Regions from separate parts of the Homo sapiens genome. Here region 2 is linked to region 1. Evidence: fine-mapped expression QTL. A gene starts in region 1. The other region holds a variant in brackets. All regions are shown on one strand. Distances are between the middles of the regions.

What was found.
Region 2: its variant is fine-mapped to the expression of CAPRIN2 in fibroblasts (GTEx, PIP above 0.99). The same link has a PIP of 0.9 or more in atrial appendage, left ventricle, subcutaneous fat, tibial artery and tibial nerve.

What each region holds. Positions count from the first base shown.
Region 1 is chr12:30,750,836-30,759,673 of GRCh38, reverse strand. It overlaps CAPRIN2 (caprin family member 2), which reads left to right and starts at 4,723. Exons shown (of 19, transcript NM_001385503.1): 1 at 4,723-4,923; 2 at 6,115-6,330; 3 at 8,541-8,603. The coding sequence starts at 6,154. It overlaps LOC645485 (a long non-coding RNA gene), which reads right to left and starts at 4,600. Exons shown (of 2, transcript NR_135046.1): 1 at 4,403-4,600. RefSeq lists silencers at 3,195-3,398, 4,490-5,169 and enhancers at 5,097-5,266, 5,270-5,349.
Region 2 is chr12:30,791,276-30,800,113 of GRCh38, reverse strand. LINC00941 (long intergenic non-protein coding RNA 941) reads right to left here and starts at 4,433. Exons shown (of 5, transcript NR_040245.1): 1 at 3,898-4,433; 2 at 1,799-1,969; 3 at 93-201. RefSeq lists enhancers at 3,642-4,143, 4,144-4,643, 5,146-5,645, 5,646-6,147, 6,649-7,150. The variant C/AC (reference allele first, on the strand shown) is at 4,939.

The sequences.
Region 1 (8,838 bases):
TCAGCCTCCCAAAGTGCTGGGATTACAGGCGTGAGCCACCACACCAAGTTTATTTTAATAAAAAGATGCTCATTATATTTTAAGTCAAAATAGCAGAATTGCAAAATGTTTAGTACATTCCCATTTTTGTAAAAAATTATACAGATATTTTCTTGGAAATAAGTCTAGAAGAATATAAGCAAAAAGTTAATAATGGTAATCGGTGGAGGGGGCAGCTTTCATGTTTTTGGGAAAATACTTTTTCTGGTTTGGTATAAAAACTAAACATATGCTATAAAAATAAAGTGAAAACATCTTTCAGCCTTTTCCATGCATATTTAAAATGAAATATTTTACAAAGTCACAATCTTACTAAATGTTTTATACCGTGTTTTATCCTGCCCTTTTTTCACTTCATATAATATCATGTCATTGAATATTCTTTGAAAAGATGATTTGTACTACTTGAATTAAAATTCATGGCTTAGAGTCACATTATTTAGCCATTTCTCTATTGTTGAGTGTCTAGGTTGTTGTTTACAATTTCCCACCACTTAAAAAAATGTGGTGCCTAGCATTTTCATAAATAAGTGATTGTTTGCATCTCTGATTATTTTGATAGGGGAGATTCCTAAAATAAAGGCTACTGGATCAAAAGATATGAATATTTTAAAATGTCTTTCTGAATGAATTCCTTTGAAGACACTGTAACACTGAATTGCTTATTCTTTTTGGTTTCAATCTTCAAGTTTAATTGCCTATTTCTATACTTTATTTACTCCATGGAAGCAGCAAGGGAAAGGGATGAAGCGGCCTGGAGTGCATGTTGCATTAGAGGGCAGAAGACCTAGATTCTTTAGGTCTTGGAAAACTCACAAATGTCCACCAGCTTTATATACCTTGTCTTTCAAATAAGGGCGGGGGGGTGGGATTCCTTAGCCATAAATTCCACAGTTCTCTAGTTCTCCTTGGCTACTAGGAGAAATGCTGGGCTTCGTATTATGGCAAAAGCAGCAAATACAGGTATCTCAGTGGAGGATATGTTTTCATGGCCTAGTCTCTAGTCAGATGCTTTTACAGAAACGAAATGAAATCCTTAACAATGCTGTTAATAGGTAATATTATGTTTGTTTTATTATCAGCAGTTTTACAGCTGAAAAAACTGAAGCCCACAGAATTTCAGTCACTTGCCCAAGATCATTCAGCTAGTAAGGGGCAGGAACAAGAATCCAATCCATGTGTGTCTGGCTCCAAAGCCCATGCTGTTGACACTTTATAATACTTCAAAGTTGGACAGAAATCATATTTTTATGGGCTTGATATTATTGATTTAATGACACACATTCATAAGTTCTACACTGATTACTCCTCCTCTAAAGAACTTTTATTTCAAAGGTACTTAATGGTGGAGCACTATTAATGCATTAACTTCAATATCAGAAAAACAGTATCAACAAAACCAATAGGAATGTATAATTTTATGAAAAAATAAGCCTACCAAATTATTAATCTTACAAACTAGATATTTCTCTAAAAATACCCTAAACTATTATGGCAAGTTTTTTTTCCTACCTGAGGTCTATATTTCTCAGTTCTTTACTTTCATAAAAAGTTTCTCAAATATTTGAATAGACACTCTATGAATCAGCAAGTATGTGAAAGTACTGTATATATATATATATATTTTTTTTTTTTTTTTTTTTTTGAGACAGAGTTTCGCTCTTGTCATCCAGGCTGGAGTGCAGTGGCGCAATCTTGGCTCACTGCAACCTTCTCCTCCTGGGTTCAAGCGATTCTTCTGTCTTAGTGTCCCAAGTAGCTGCGATTACAGGGGCGCACCACCATGCCCGGCTGATTTTTGTATTTTTAGTACAGATGGGGTTTCGCCATGTTGGCCAAGCTGGTCTTGAACTCCTGATTTCAGGTGATCTGCCTGCCTTGGTTTCCCAAAGTGCTGGGATTACAGGCGTTAAGCCACCACACCCGGCCAAAAGTACTATCTTTTTAACAACCTTATGTTATTGTTCCTGTCTTTTTCTTTCTTAGCCTTCTTATTATTTTTCTTGGTGACTTTCTCCCTCTCTCTCTGTCTCTTGGTGGCAATTCTCCACAAAGTCTCGTAGAGCCAATAAGAAACAGACTTCTATCACCCACAACCATGTGTCTAAGATAATTTCTCATATCTCTACTAACACGCTACCAGGTTTCACATCCTTTGGTGGATTTATCTTTCCAGTTTCAACAATATGAAGCTATATTAATTTTAAGTGACTACAGCATAACCATCCCTGCAGCAATTGAACATTTGTCAGACAGTGCATATTTAACACCTTCACATTTTCAAAGGACGTAAAGTCTGGCTGTTTTTGTAGAAATCAAACCATCCATTATTAAAGTCTTTAGTATTTTTGTCTTCGGGTTTTTTGATTTGGTTGTTTTTGCCATTTACATCTATAGCTTTTACTGAATTCCCACTTAGCTCCACGAAGGCAGAAGCTATATTGTCTCAGTCACCATTATGCCTTATCACCTACTACATAGCAAGTGCTAAGTAAACATCTGTTGAATGAATAAATGAATATATTCTTCTATCAATGATTCGAGACAACACTTTTTATCATATTTCCAATATAGTTATTCCTTGCTAAGCTTGGAGGTGGCATGCCACAGATACTGCCTCACAGTTGGCAAGAAAAGTCACGGTCTTACAGAAAATAGGGAGTGGGAGAGGGTAAAATAAACTAAACTCCTGACAAATAAAAGTTTTGGGGACATGTGCTTTCAAAGTAAGCCAGACTTACTGACTTTAAAGATCTCCTCTAGCAGAAAAGCTTTTATCTGAATCATCTTTTTAACTTGTTCAGAAGACATTGCTTCAAGAGTATCTACTGTGGTATGTTCTCCTACAAATGTCACGCCATACGTATACAGACTGTACCCTACTGGACTTGAAATTCAATTATTTTTGCTTTTGCATTCTTTCGTGATGCATTTTTATAATCCTTCCTGAGAAGTAAATCTGTATGGATTTATTCATTTAGAAGAATATCCATTTAGTAGAAAATTTAAAATTTACGGCCTCCTTTTTGCCTGACCGATTAGAAGGCAAACATTTCTTTCTTTCTTTCTTTTTTTGAGATAGAGTCTTGCTCTGTCACCCAGGCTGGAGTGCAGCGGCACAATCTCGGCTCACTGCAGCGTCCGTCTCCGGGTTTCAAGCGATTCTCCTGCCTTAGCCTCTGAGTAGCCATGATTACAGGCACATGCCGCCATGCTCGGCTAATTTTTGTATTTTTAGTAGAGATGGATATTCACCACGCTGGCCAGCCTGGCCTCGAACTCCCGACCTCAGGTGATCCACCCCGCCTCGGCCTCCCAAAGTGCTGGGATCACAGGCTTGAGCCACTGCGCCGGCAGGGGGCAAACATTTCATGATTAATCTGACTGAAATACCATTTTTAGGTTCATCATTAGCTCGGACTACAACTCAGGCTGTGCTGTAACTTTGTGTCAACTCATTGATCCAACAGTGTGTCCTTCACATTTTTTCTTATGGCCACTGTTTTTTGTGTTACCAAAGGTGAAGGCATAGCCTTCCTCTCCTCATGTTCAGCATCTTCTGCGTTTCTCTGTTTATAAACAATGAGAAAAAGGGAAAATCTAGTATTTCTCTGACCCTGAAGAACACATATGGGATTCAGAGATTCAAAGTTAAAATGCAACATTAGGGTACATTATGTCACCAGGGACCGAAAAGAACACGGATAATAGATGCCAAAAAAATGTATTAAGTAATGTTAAAATTAATTTGTGTGAAGTTGACCAAGGCTTTTAAAACTAGACCTTTGTTTCCTTGATTCTTCTTCTGAATTTTCTGTTCTTTTGCTAGTCTCAATATTTTTTATCAGAGCGTCAGGGACAATCAGGACCTAAAAAACTCCACTTGGTGTAATAAGTAAACACATGTTGGGGCAAAGTATTGCTGAGTGTGTGTGTGTGTTTCTTATTTGGTATCAGAAACACCTTCCTTTCCTCAATAAACTTTTACATATTTCCAGACTTTTCTCTTAATTTTATGTAACCTTACAAAGATTTTTTACAGCTTTCTCTGCGTGCCAGTCAATTAATGTGTGTCACATGAACAAATAATACGGCTTGAATAAACTCAATCCTATTATTGCAGGTTGCGAAGTCACCTACTCCGTTTTTATGGCGATGCTGATTTGGGGCATTCTGCTCTTACAGGCTGATTCCCCGGTAAGGAAACGGTGTTTTTTCCCCATCCTACTATGAAAGATGCTATCTGAGGGGCAAAGGCGCATCTGCATTTCACGACTACCCACTAGGCTACGACAGCCTCAAGCATGGCTTATCTGGTAGTTCCGCGAAGGGCTCGCTGCCCTCCTGGAGCTATTGGAGTCACCTGTTCAAGGTCGCGAAACCACCGGTGCCGCCGGCAATCAGCGAGGTCCAGCGGGGCTGCGCGGTTTCCGGCCTGCCGGCGTTCGGCGTCGCCTCGGCCCCACCTGGTGCCCCGCAATCTGCGCAAAGGCTGGGAGACCGCGCCCTCTCCCGACCTACCACCAGCCCAAGCTGGGCCCGGAACTAACACCCGACAAGCGCTGGCGGCCAGCTGCAGCCGGGAAGGAGCACCGGAAGGAGGCGGTGGCGGGGCGGCCGAGGGCGGAGCGGGCCGGGGCGGGGCGCGGCCTACAAAAGCCACGCGCGGCGCGGTGGGCGGGCCTGGGCGCGAGCGGCTGAGTCGGCTGGGTCTCTGGCGCCGCAGAGGCCGCGGGCGAGGACCGGGAGGGGAGAGGGAGGAGACAGGAGGAGGAGACGCGAGTGCGGGGTGGCGCCGGTCCACCTCCGCAGCGCTCCTGCCTCCCCCAGGCTTTGGAAGGCGGGCCCGGGCTGCGGCAGCGGCGGCCTCGGCTGCCTGGGGAGGTGAAGTCGGGCTGCGGCGGCCTCGGTCGGCGCGGCGGAGGGAGGCGGCTGACCCGGCGAGGGTGGGCAGGTCTGGGCGGCCGGCGCCGCTGCGAGGTGGAGGGGCGGCTTGGCATCCCCGGGGCGGGGCGGGGCTCCCGAGGGCCGCGGTCGGTGCGTTTTCCGCAGGTCAGCCTCCCCCGGGGCCTTGCAGAAGCGGCTTCTGCGTACCCGGGGCGGCTGTGGGAAGGGTGGGGGTCGGTGCCTGCAGGGCTCTCCGTGGCCGCTCGGGAGAGGTGCTCTTCGCTCAGGCTCCCCCGGAGACTTGAGGGGGTGCGCGCTGGCGTGCATGGGGCCTGTTCTGTCCTTGGTTTGGGGATGCTCCTAAGGGGGGAGAAAGGGATACCTCGGGTGCTTGGAGGTCGAGAGACGGATACGTAAGTGCGCAAGGGCCACTGATTAGGGCACGGGAAGGGCTCGCTAGAATGAGCTCTTAAACTGGTTGGGTGTAAGCGGTTTTGGGCTAGTCTAAACCAAACAACTGAGAATAAACGCGGGGTTCCTGCAGGTTGAGAGAGTACCTGTCTGCAAATGTCCAGTAGTGATGGATTGCCTTGTAGGCCCCAGAGCAATCGGGGAAGTTAGCATTCTTGTTCAAGAAGCTGCTGGTTCACTTAGAGCTATAAAAGAATGTTGTGAGTTTGGATTTTCTTCCAAACGTTCAGGATTGAGGTTAGGGCTGGTGGTGAGGGATCATGTAAAGAGGTTTGAGTGGCTCAGCCTTAGGTCCCGGTGTGGAAAGCTTATTCTTTTGGTGTCATCACGTGGCCATGGGAATTATTTAGAATGTGATCTGCCCTCATGAGAAGAAAGGAGCTCTGAAGCCGTTGCAGTTCTTCCTCCCTATGTGGAAAATCGAATTTCTGGAAACATCCTCCGTATTGGGAGATTTTGCCTATGTAAAGGCTATCCTTATTGGCTAGCGGCACTAATTACTTTAAAAGTAGGATGGAAGTACAAGTATCTCAAGCATCATTGGGTTTCGAGCTCACTTCTGTGGAAAAGAGTTTAAGGGAGTGGTCTAGACTTTCCAGGGAAGTTATTGCCTGGCTGTGTCCCTCTAGTCCTAATTTTATACTTAACTTTCCCCCACCTCCTTCAGCCTCATCTGTTTCAATGGTGCAACTCTTTTCATCCCCTTTTGGTTACCAGTCACCTTCAGGCCATTCAGAGGAGGAAAGAGAGGGGAATATGAAGTCAGCCAAGCCCCAAGTGAACCACAGTCAGCATGGGGAAAGCCAGCGGGCCTTGAGCCCCCTGCAGTCTACTCTGAGTTCTGCTGCATCTCCTTCCCAAGCGTATGAGACCTATATTGAAAATGGACTCATATGCCTTAAACACAAAATTAGAAACATCGAGAAAAAGAAGGTAACTTTTTTTCTTCCAGTCCTGTAGATGCATGATCTTAAAGATTAAGGAGCTGACATTTTTCTTTCAGAGCTCATAGGTGTTCTCTACTAAAAATTTAACTAACCTTAGGTTTAGCTGCTTTAAACAAGCAGGTTACGTGTTGGAAATATTAAACATTTTCTGTTTCATTTGTCAAAACAACGGAATAAAAATATTCTTCATAGTTACATTATGCATGCTGCTGTTGAAATACTTTAAGAGCTAGCTATTTTAGGTGAGATTAATTCCTTATGTAGTATTAATGTTTCTTTTCATAGATGTGTTAATAGCTGATTTTTTAGCTTGTTTTCCTTGTGACTTTCTGCAGCAGTTGATATTGCAGTATAACTGCTGCAGTCGTTGGAAGGTTTAACCGTAGTAGAACTAGAAAATGTTTTACCACTTACTTTTGTGGTGTTAGGTGAAGATTTAAGATTGCTAGGTGAAAGCGTGGTAGTCAGCCTTGTAAAGAGACCCAGGAGTTAAGCCTAGCTACAGAAAATGCTGTTGTAAAGATCTAAATCCTTCTTCATTTCCTGAGTCATGTAGCCTGTGAAACAGACTGCACGTTGCTTTGCTGTATTACGTTTCTCTTCTGCTTTTGGACAGGTGAGGTTGAGTGACTATCTGGACCTATGTGTTGTTAAGTACTTTTGTGCCAAGACCTAGTTAGACCTTAAAGTTGCTTTTAATGGAGGAGTGTGAAGAGACTCTTTAGAGTCTGGTTGACTCTTTTTTTTTTTTTTTTTTAACCTAAGAAAGTAAAGAAGGGCAAGTTGCTAGTAGCTTCTCTGTAGCTCTCACCATTTATCTTTTTAACGTATGCAGTTGATCACAAGTGTGGTAAGGTGAGTGTGCCAGGTCAGCACAAATTCCCCATCACTGTGATAAATGATCAAAGCAGGATCTATTGACGGAGCCTCCCTCAGGTGGAGGAACTACATATATGTATGCTTATGCTCTCTAGCTTACCTATAGTACCTCTTTAATTTTGAATACCAGATAGTACGAGTACTTTTGTTTCAACCTTCTGGGAAAGAATTTTTCCACTAAAGCCAATACAGGAGGAACCTAAAGAATGCTTTTAGAGTACCATAGTGGGTCCGGGTGCAGTGGCTCACACCTGTAATCCCTGCGCTTTGGGAGGACAAGGCAGGTAGATCACCTGAGGTCAGGAGTTTGAGACTAGCCTGGCCAACATGATGAAACCCCGTCTCTACTAAAAATACAAAAAGAATTAGCCAGGCGTGGTGGGGGGTGCCTGTAATCCCACCTACTCAGGAGGCTGAGGCAGGAGAATCGCTTGAACCCAGGAGGTGGAGGTTGCAGTGTGCCGAGATCGCGACACTGCACTCCAGCCTGGGCAACGGAGTGAAATTCTGTCTCAAAAAAAAAAAAAAAAAAAAAAAAAAATACCATAGTGGGTTTATGTCATTATTATGGGGCCAACAAATGCAATTTATTTTTCATAATTTCCTTAAGTATCAAATATAATATGAAAAATAACTTCAAGATGAGCCTACTCTATGATAATGATAGAAAAGAATTCTTGGTGTTTCTGTACTTCCAATAGGAGTTTCTTTTTAGGAAAATGCCACATAATTCAACAGGTAACTGAACTAATAGTTTAAGCATGAGATTAGAGTAGGACTTCGTAACCTCTACACCACTGACATTTTGTACAGGATAATTCTTCGTTGTAAAGGGCTGTCCTGTGCATTTTAAGATGTTTGGCAGCATCCCTGGCCTCTAACCACAAGATACCGGTAGCACTCTTCACCTCCCTTCCCCCTCCCAAGTTGTGATAACCAAAAATATCCCTAGATATTGCCAGGTATCTTTGGGGGACAAAATTGTTCCCTGTTGAGAAGCTACTGTGTTGGGGACACATGATTTAGTAGGTAAGTCCCCATGGGTTAAGTAGTCTAGTTATTAATAGAGTCATTAAGAGAAAATAGTTTTATTACTGCTTAGGTTTTGTAATTCCAGACTCATGTGATTCTGTGTATTTTTTCTCCCCTGACTGGAACTCATCTACAGTTGCTGCATGCCGTATAGTAAAATGATAGTCTTGCAGATTGATAGCTTACTTCAAGGACTTTGTTTCCTAGAGACAAGATCTGGCATTTACTTTATTTGCTTCTGAATTTTATGTCAGACTATGGTAGATACAAGTTTCTCTTTTGTAGCTCAAACTGGAGGATTATAAGGATCGCCTGAAAAGTGGAGAGCATCTTAATCCAGACCAGTTGGTAAGTGGCTTATGATCTTTTAGTAAGACTTGCTGGTTTTCTTTTCTTAATAAAACTACATGGATTTAGTGCGATCAGTCTTTATAGCACACACACACACAGTTAAAATCCATAGTTTGTTCAAAACTGTTTCAGAAGACTTTGTTGTTTGTGCCTGTTAGATCTCAGATATGACTTTTTGTTCTGTTGACTAGAAGATGGTACGCATGGGGGTGTAGATTGTTAACAGGAGTGA
Region 2 (8,838 bases), 40 kb before region 1:
TTCTGTCTCCTCTCCCATTTTCCAGGAATGGGATCAGTGGGCATTTCCTTTTTCCCATAGCCAAAGACACCACCAAGTGCTCCATTTCCTACCTGACTGATTCTTGATACCAGTCTACTGCTTCTTTCATAATCAGTCAGTGAATCCAAAACTGTTGTTTGGCTATCAACTGTCTCCTTTAGACACTTCTCGAGGGCGCTTCTGTCAGGGAAGAGAAGTGAAGAGAAAAGTAAGAATCCAGAGCACATGCAATAAACAAAGCAACCCAAAGTTGATAAGCATTCAGCAAGCATTCACTGAACACCTCACATTCAGCTAAGTGTGAATGGTGAGAAAGCAACACAGGAGGGAGGAAGCCAGGCTCCTTGCCATCAGGGGGGATCAATCTTGTAGACAAGGCAAAATTACATTTCACCCAAGACACCTATATTTTTTACATTTTAAGATTTCTAAAATGGGACTTCATCTTACAATCATGACACCTTCGACTGGATGAAATACAGTAACTACAACACAAAGCAGCATTGTGCCCTGAGAGGTGTGCAAAGCCTACAGCAATTAGGACACTGGACCAAGGTCAGGGTGCATATTAGAATCACCTGGGAAACTTTTAAAACTACCTTATGCCCAGATCCCACTCCAGACCAACTGAATCAGTATGAAAGAGTGGGGTTGAGCATTTTGGCATTGGTACTTTTTTTTTTTTTCAGACGGTGTTTTACTTGCCACCCAGGCTGGAGTGCAGTGGCATGATCTCAGCTCACTGCAGCCTCTGCCTCCTGGGTTCAAGTGATTCTCCTGCCTCAGTCTCCCGAGTAGCTGGGACTACAGGTGCCTGCCACCACGCCTGGCTAATTTTTTGTGTTTTTAATAGAGATGGGATTTCACCATGTTGACTGGGCTGGTCTCGAACTCCTGACCTCAGGTGATCCACCCACCTTGGCCTCCCAAAGTGCTGGGATTACAGGCATGAGCCACCACGCCTGGCCAGCAATGGTAGTTTTTAAAGCACCCCGTGAGATCCTAATATGTAGCCAGAGTTGAGAACCAGGATAGTAATTTCAAATGAGAGTACACATTCCCTGAGGTTACCTGAAGACTTTCCATGGGGCATGCTGACACGAATACTTTGGTAGAGGTCAGCACACTAGGGCTTATGGACGAAAGCTGCTGCCTGTTTCTGTACCCCCCAGGGAGCTAAGATGGTTTTTACATTTTTTAATGGTTGGGGGAAAAATCAAAAGGGAAGTAATATTTGGGGACACATGAAATTCAAATATAAGTGTCCATAATTAAAGTTTTATTGGAGCATAGCCATAATCTTTTGTTTACATATTGTCTATGGCTGCTACAAGGTTGGAGTTAAAGAGTTGGGATAGGACCATATGGCTGGCAAAGCCTGAAATATTTACTATCTGACACTTTACAGAAAAAATTTGCGGAGGCTGGCTTGAAGAGAATGAATCTTCAGAATCTCAACATTTTATGTCCTATTCCAGAAACTGACCTGCCTGTAAAGGTACAGCTGTTAAGGTGTCAGGTGTGGGTGGAGGCTCATCCCCTTTCCCATGCTTTTTTCATAGTTGTCCTCCCACTTTCAGAAGAAAGGTAGGCCTCTCACCAACACTGGGGTATGAAAAAAAACCCTAGGCACCAGACAAAAGAATAATCCCAAATACTGGTGTCTGATGGGGACTCTGACCACTGGGTAACCATATGTATCTATATATCGATATATATGTGCATTTGTGTGTGTGTAATATATAGTAAATCAGGTGAGTTCCAAATATTGCCTTACCAAACCTGAAGGAGAACCCAATCAAGTTGTCAGCTGGCAAATTATTGAAAGTATTTGGCTGAGTGTAGTGGTGCATGCTTGTAGTCCCAGCTACTTGGGAGACTGAGATGGAAGGACCTCTTGAGGCCAAGAGTACAAGTCCAGCTTGGGCAACCTAATGAGACCACATCCCTAAAAAAAAAAAAAAAAATTAGTGACGGATGGCTATGTGATTTTTGGCATATAACTTAGAAAGGGTTCAAAGAATTGAGTAACATAGTGATAAAAAATTAATGTCATAATTATTTATGGAAACAAGGTACTTTAAGGCTTACATCTAAAATATGTTAAAATGCTGAGTATTGTCTCATAGGAATAAGCAATATTCACAGATACGTGAACTAATTAGGAAGAAAAAGCCCATTAATTTCATTAATGCCAGCAGGGGGCAAAGGCCTTGAGCGTTTTGGACAGTGAGAAGCCCCATTGCCCCAGATCTGGGAGATCCTCTCCCGGCCGGTGGAATATGCAAGGGAAAGGCCATGTGAGTCTAGATTCCATGGTGTTAATGCCAGGCAGAGGCAGACTTTAACAGACAAGGAAATGAAGATGATGATGGGTTCAGGAGGAAGAGGATAAAAAGTTTACCGGGCCGGGCGCGGTGGCTCACGCCTGTAATCCCAGCACTTTGGGAGGCTGAGGCGGGTGGATCACAAGGTCAGCAGTTCGAGACCAGCCTGACCAACATGGTGAAACCCCGTCTCTACTAAAAATACAAAAAAATTAGCTGGGCTTAGTGGCGGGCGCCTGTAATGCCAGCGACTTGGGAGCCTGAGGCAGGAGAATTGCTTGAAACCGGAAGGCGGAGGTTGCAGTGAGCCGAGATTGCACCTCTGCACTCTAGCCTGGGCAATGAGAGCAAAACTCCATCTCAAAAAAAAAAAAAAAAAAAAGTGCAGTTTACCAAAGGCAAATGTGGCCGGAGCATGTAGGATGAACTAGGGAAGAGGAGGCTCGAAGCCCCGGACTGGCCATGAGGCTGGCAGGAACCTAGAAGAGGGGAAACGCGTGCCCGACTTGGTATCGTCCTGGAGGGTCCAGAGAGAAGAGGATGCAGGCAGCATACGTTTTAAGGGATGAGTCGTCGGAACTGGATGCTAATCAGATATAATCAGCTGACGACATTCCTTCTGTGGAGTAAGCCACTTGGGAAGACAGTCTTGGGTGCGGAGGGGACCCAGCGGGACGAGACCAGGTGCCTGCTGGTCTCCCAGGTTCGCGCAGGAAGGCTGGGAATTTCCTTGCCTCCTCCCCACCGCACCATCCTCCACCCCCGGCCCGGAGCTGTCTCTACCTGGAGAGAAAAAACGGAAAGGCCGAGAAATCAGAGCCAGAGGGCAGAGTGAAAGGGGTGGGGATGGGAGAGGATACAAAGGGGTTAGGACGAAGAAAACGGACTTCCTAGAGTCCCGACTTGAGGGCTTGACTTCAAGAAGAGAAGAGAAGTCTGAAACGGGGGCGAGAGCAAAGGCAGGGGGTTGGGGTGGTCGGGGGGGGGCGGCGATTATAATCGACTTTTATGGCTTGACGGCCAGGGCAGAAATTAAATTTGGGGGCCGGCTAAGGCTAGAGAGTAAGGTGACGGCTCGCCCCGCGGGTTTGGAGCTGTGCGCTGGGGGCCAAGGGAGCAGCGGGAGGAGCGCATGCCTGGGGCGCACGGGCCGGGAGGGGCGGGAGGAGAGCCCAGTCCCCAGCTCAGATTACTCTCCTAGGCATGGTCCCCACCAGAGCCGGGGCTGGAAGCTGGAAATCCGAGTAGAGCTGACTCGGACTTAGCTGCCCAAGGGAAAGCCTCCGGGCGGTCCTCGCTGCGCCCCTAGTCCGGGGCCCCGACCCCTCCCGGACACTGCTTGGGCCATGCGGGCGCCGCGTTGCCGGCCACTCGTCGTCCCGGGGTCCCAACTGGGGCCGCTCCTGCTGTTCTAGAGCTTGCTGGCCCCGGCGCGCCTCTCTTGCAGCTCCTGTACTACTCGAGGGGACCACGTCGTCCCGGAGGCGCGGCCATCGAGAGGATGCTGCGGCCGCGGGGCGGCGGGGGCGGGCGTTTCAGGGCTACTCACCCGAGCTGGGAAGGCAGGAAGTCTGTGCTGGCTGGGGGTTGGTCTCAGAGGGACTCTGGGGCTTGGACACAAAAATCGCGGCGCACTGGGGAGGACACCCGGAGCGGTGGGAACTGCGGTGTGGACCCGGGAGAAAAGGGGGTTGGAGGTGGGGGGAGATCGCGCGGCACGCGTTGCATAACCTGACCTGCCCTCCTGGGCTGGAGGCAGGAGTGACACCTCCGCCTGAGCCGCAGTTCAGAGAAGGCTACCGCGGCGCTGGGTCCTGCGGGACAGCCAGCAGGGCTGGGGTGGAATGGGGGCAGGGGAAGGAGCCCTGAGAGGAGCCAGGATGGGTCTGGACCTGGCTCCAAGTCGCGTGCCCTACACACCCCCTCTGCGCTGCCCAGCGGGGCACGGCCCGACCTCGGAAGGCCCATCCGGCTCTCAGAAGTGGCCGCTCTACCAGCTGCCCATAATGCTGCCGAGGAGCCTGTGCCAGTCCCACGGCTGCCGTGCAGCAAGCGGGCGGCCCGACTGACTTCAGCCACGTCCCCTGCGTCAGACAAGTGGGCGTCCCCTGCGTCGAGACAAGTGGGGGATCCGCGAGGCCTGCAGGGGCGCAGGGACCAGAGTGCTAAGACGTGGCATGACCTTTCAGGGAGAACTGCGCAGAGGGTGGCCAAGGGTCACCTCCCTCGAGGGGCGAAGCCCTGAGATGTGAGGATGATTCTTAAGACAGCGCCCTTCCCGCCCCTTCCAACCCCCCAGACCACCACCCGGGTCTGGGAACAGGGTGAGCGCATGGCGAGAGGTTGTCTGGTTTTGTAGCTATCAAGTTGTACCCCCGCTGTGCCCATAGGAAGTGACTCATCTGCTTGTCAGGTAGTGGCCTTGCTGTGAGCCAGGACCATATTAAGAAAAGAAAGAAAAAAAGGAGCAGCAAAACACTGTGCCCCTGCACAATGTGCTCTCCTTTCTTCTGCCCTCCCTCTCCTAGGCTGTCCTCTTCTTCCTCCACTTGTAGTTTGCTCAGCCCCCTCCCATCCACTGCCACCCCCG[C/AC]CCAGTTGAATAATGCTCGTATCTGAGTCAGCGGATGTGAAACAAAGGGTTATTTCTCCTTATCTAATTTTGTGGAAGATTGACTAAAAGAGGGTGGAGAGTGTGTCTATTTAGCAGGAAAAAGATGTTTTTAACGTGAATAATATTGAGAAATGTGCTGTGACTTTCACTGTTGGGCAAAGCAGGGAGACGCCTGCCTAGCTGGCCCTTCCTGCAGGCTTGGTAAAAAGTCCTCTCCGGTGGAGGGTTGGTGGCCATTTGTCAGGTACCTAAAGAATACAAGGCGCTATGCTAGGAACTAGAACTGTACAGAAATATCCCGAAGGCTCTAATGTCATGGGACCTAACTCATTTCGGAGGAAGTAAGGCTTGAAGGTAGAGAACTATCTTGCAAGGCCGCCTGTGGCAAGCTCTTTGCACAATCAGTGAATGTACAGAAATCCAGGGTAAACAAAAATTACTTCCAACTGGGATATACTTCATAGAAAAGGCATCTGGGGTGGGGCGCAGTGGATAACGCCTGTAATCCCAGCACTTTGAGGGGCTGAGGTGGGTGGATCACCTAACTTCAGGAGTTCCAGACCAGCCTGGCCAGCCTGGCCAACACGATGAAACCCTGTCTCTGCTAAAAAAAATACAAAAAATTAGCTGGGCGTGGTGGTGGGTACCTGTAATCCCAACTACTTGGGAGGCTGAGGCAGGAGAATCGCTTGAACCCAGGAGGCGGAGGTTGCAGTCAGCCAAGATGGCGCCACTGCACTCCAGCCTGGGCAACGAGAGCAAAACTCTGTCTCCAAAAAAAAAAAAAAAAAAAAAGAGAAAAGAAAAAGAAAAGGCATTTGGACAGCCCTGGGGTTGGCAGAAGACTTCCGGATGGTAGAAGCCAAGGTCCTTGGGTGGGACAGGATAAGGTATGTGGCTAGAGTGGAGAATCTGTGTGGCAGGAATGTGAGAAAAGATGCCAGAAAAGGAGATAGGGACTCCTCTGTGTGTGGCATGGGAACTGGGCTTTGACTTTCATTGCATAGTGAAGCAACTGAAAGTCATGAGCAGGGGCACAGCGTGGCTCCAGAGAGGGCTGGAGAGAGATGCTTGCTGGCCATATTTGTCTGCAATCTTCCACTCTTCTTTCTTCTTACTCTACCCTTTTTTTTTTTTTTGACAGAGTCTCGCTCTGTCACCCAGGCTGGAGCGCAGTGGTGCCATCTCAGCTCACTGCAAGCTCCGCCTCCTGGGTTCAAGCCTTTCTCCTGCCTCAGCCTCCCAAGTAGCTGGGACTACAGGCACCCACCACCACGCCTGGCTAATTTTTTGGTATTTTTTTAGTAGAGATGGGGTTTCACCATGTTAGCCAGGATGGTCTTGATCTTCTGACCTTGTGATCTGCCTGCCTCGGCCTCCCAAAGTGCTGGGATTACAGGCGTGAGCCACCGTGCCCAGCCACACTCTACTCTTTGTAAACCTGGCTCACATAAAACTCATCTCCATGGGCAAACAGCTCTGCTCCAGTGACTGGTCGTTTTCAAGAGAAAGAAACCCCGGGCTCTCTCTCTCTCCCTGGTGTTGTAGTGATATAGTGAGGGGCTTACAGATGTGGCTTCAGAAGACCTGGATTTGCATACCAACTTCACTGCTTACTATCTCTGCAATCTTGGGGAGTTGCTGCCTGGGTCTGGGTTTCCTCAATTCCACCATGAAGGCACTGAGTGAGCCTTCTTAAAGTGAGCCTGCACCACCTTCCAGATTATAAATTTCTATTGAAAGCCCAGTTAGATTTAGCCCTCCATGACTCTATTCTGAGACAGAGAGGAGGCTTTTGCAGGCCTGCTCTGTTGCTGACTCAGGGCTGCAGGCACAGGACGTGGGGCTTGATAAATAAGTGTTGAATGAAAGAACAAAAGAATGCAATGCATGAATAAAGCAATGAATGGTTAGCTCTGCTTGGAAAGCATTGGTAAGCTGAGACCAGCCCCAGCACGGGTTCTGGCTGCCTGGGGTTAGCACCTCAAAACCCAGATAACTCTGATGTTCCCACAAAAATCAATACTGGAGAAAGCATCAGTAATTGCATTTCCTGGGCAGTCGTTTGGCTTACCCTTTCCCTACCTGTCTTTCTTGCCATTTCCCATGACTGTCATCCAGAGGAATCTCTGTAAGGAAAGACAGCAGCAACTTGGAGCTGGTCACTGTGAATGTTTACACACAATTTTATAGACAGAATGTGTTTCATCACAAATTCTTTTTTCCTGAGCACTTGCTATTTTGACCTGTAGTGTTAGAACAACTGTTTGGTTTAACCCTTTTATCTTCTGGTTGCCAGAAGCTACTTTCAGCCACACCACTCTTCCAGAGTGTACAAAGCTGTGTTATTTGTGCCAGGCACTGTGCCAGTGGTTCACATTTCATCCCATGCTCACAACACCCTATGAGGTCAGCATGATTAACCTGTTTATTAGAGGCTGGGTGATTGGCCCGAGATCAGCAGCTAGTGCAGGTCAGAGCAGGGCTATGCATGTAACATCAAAGCCTACTTTTCTTTATCAGGCATTCAGTAATGTTCACTGAATGCACAGAATTGAATATAATCTTTCATTTCTCTTTTTAACCTTTACCACTGTGGATAGAGAATAGTGGCCTACCTTTTGGAAGTGTCCCATTTTTATTATTTAGAGAGGCAGCATAGCGGCAATTAAGAGCATGGGTTCTGGAGCAAAACTGCGTGGTATAAGTCTTTGCTATGTGGGACCTTGGGCCACTTAGCTCACCTCCCTGGGCCTTAGTGCTTTCATCAGTACAAATGGCATAAGGGTACTTAGCTCATAGGATTGTTGTCAAGATTAAATGAGATACATGTATGAAGTGCTTAGTGTGATGCCTGGTGCGGAAAAGGAGCAATAAATATTAGCTGCTCTCACTGTCATCTTCATTGTCATGAATATTCTCCTCTGATTTTTGCAAGATCTTTCATGTAATGCCATTCACAAACAGGAAGCTCATAAATAGTATTCTTATCCTACTATTTTTAAAGAATGGGTGGTTGGCAGTTCAAAGTGAAGAAATTAGGGATGACTGTTGGAGAGGAATTTGTTGGACAGAATAAGATGTGCCTTAGTATCTAAAGAAGATTCTTAATGAATTTTTAACATTATTAAAAATGTTAGGTTAATGTAAATTCTACATTGGAATTAAATTATGAGGAAGATGTCCACTATTTCTTCCCTAAACAAATGAATATCTTTTGACTTACAAATAGATATGATATCTTTTGACTTATAATAGATGAAAATTACATTACTATTATAGAACCAAACTTGGGTCTGCTCTCCCGGTACAGTAAAACCAGATATCTACAGTGAAGTTTTGCAGCAATAGAAGGAAAAGCATTTATTTGTAGGGTGCCAAACAAAAACGACTAGACAGCTAAAAACCCGTGTGGCTAGAACTGCTAGTAAGAGGGAGAATGATATAAAAACAGAATTAGAGAGGAAAGCAAGGGGCGAGATTACTGAGGGCATTGGGGTGAGATGGAGCAGGAGCCCCCTCTCTAGAGGCCTGAAAACCCCAAGCATGGAAATAAAGAAAAATCTGGAGTTCCTTAAAGGGAAATTCCAGGAACCTAGCTAGCCCCAGAAGTAAATAAGAAATTTGTCAAACAAAAAGGTAATAGTAGTCTAAAGCAATAGCCAAGGAAGTTAGAGTTCCAGAGATGTTTGCTTTCCTTATGGAAACTAAAGATAACATCTTAACATATGTCCCTGAGTTGTCTTTCAGGGCCCTCACTGAATGGATCTGCTGGCCTGTAGACCTCAGATAAGTGGAAATTGAAAACTGAACTCTGACCACATTCTTTGTCCTAAAATTTTTCCAGAGGGGCTTAGAGAATGTCACAGTCCCCTGGGG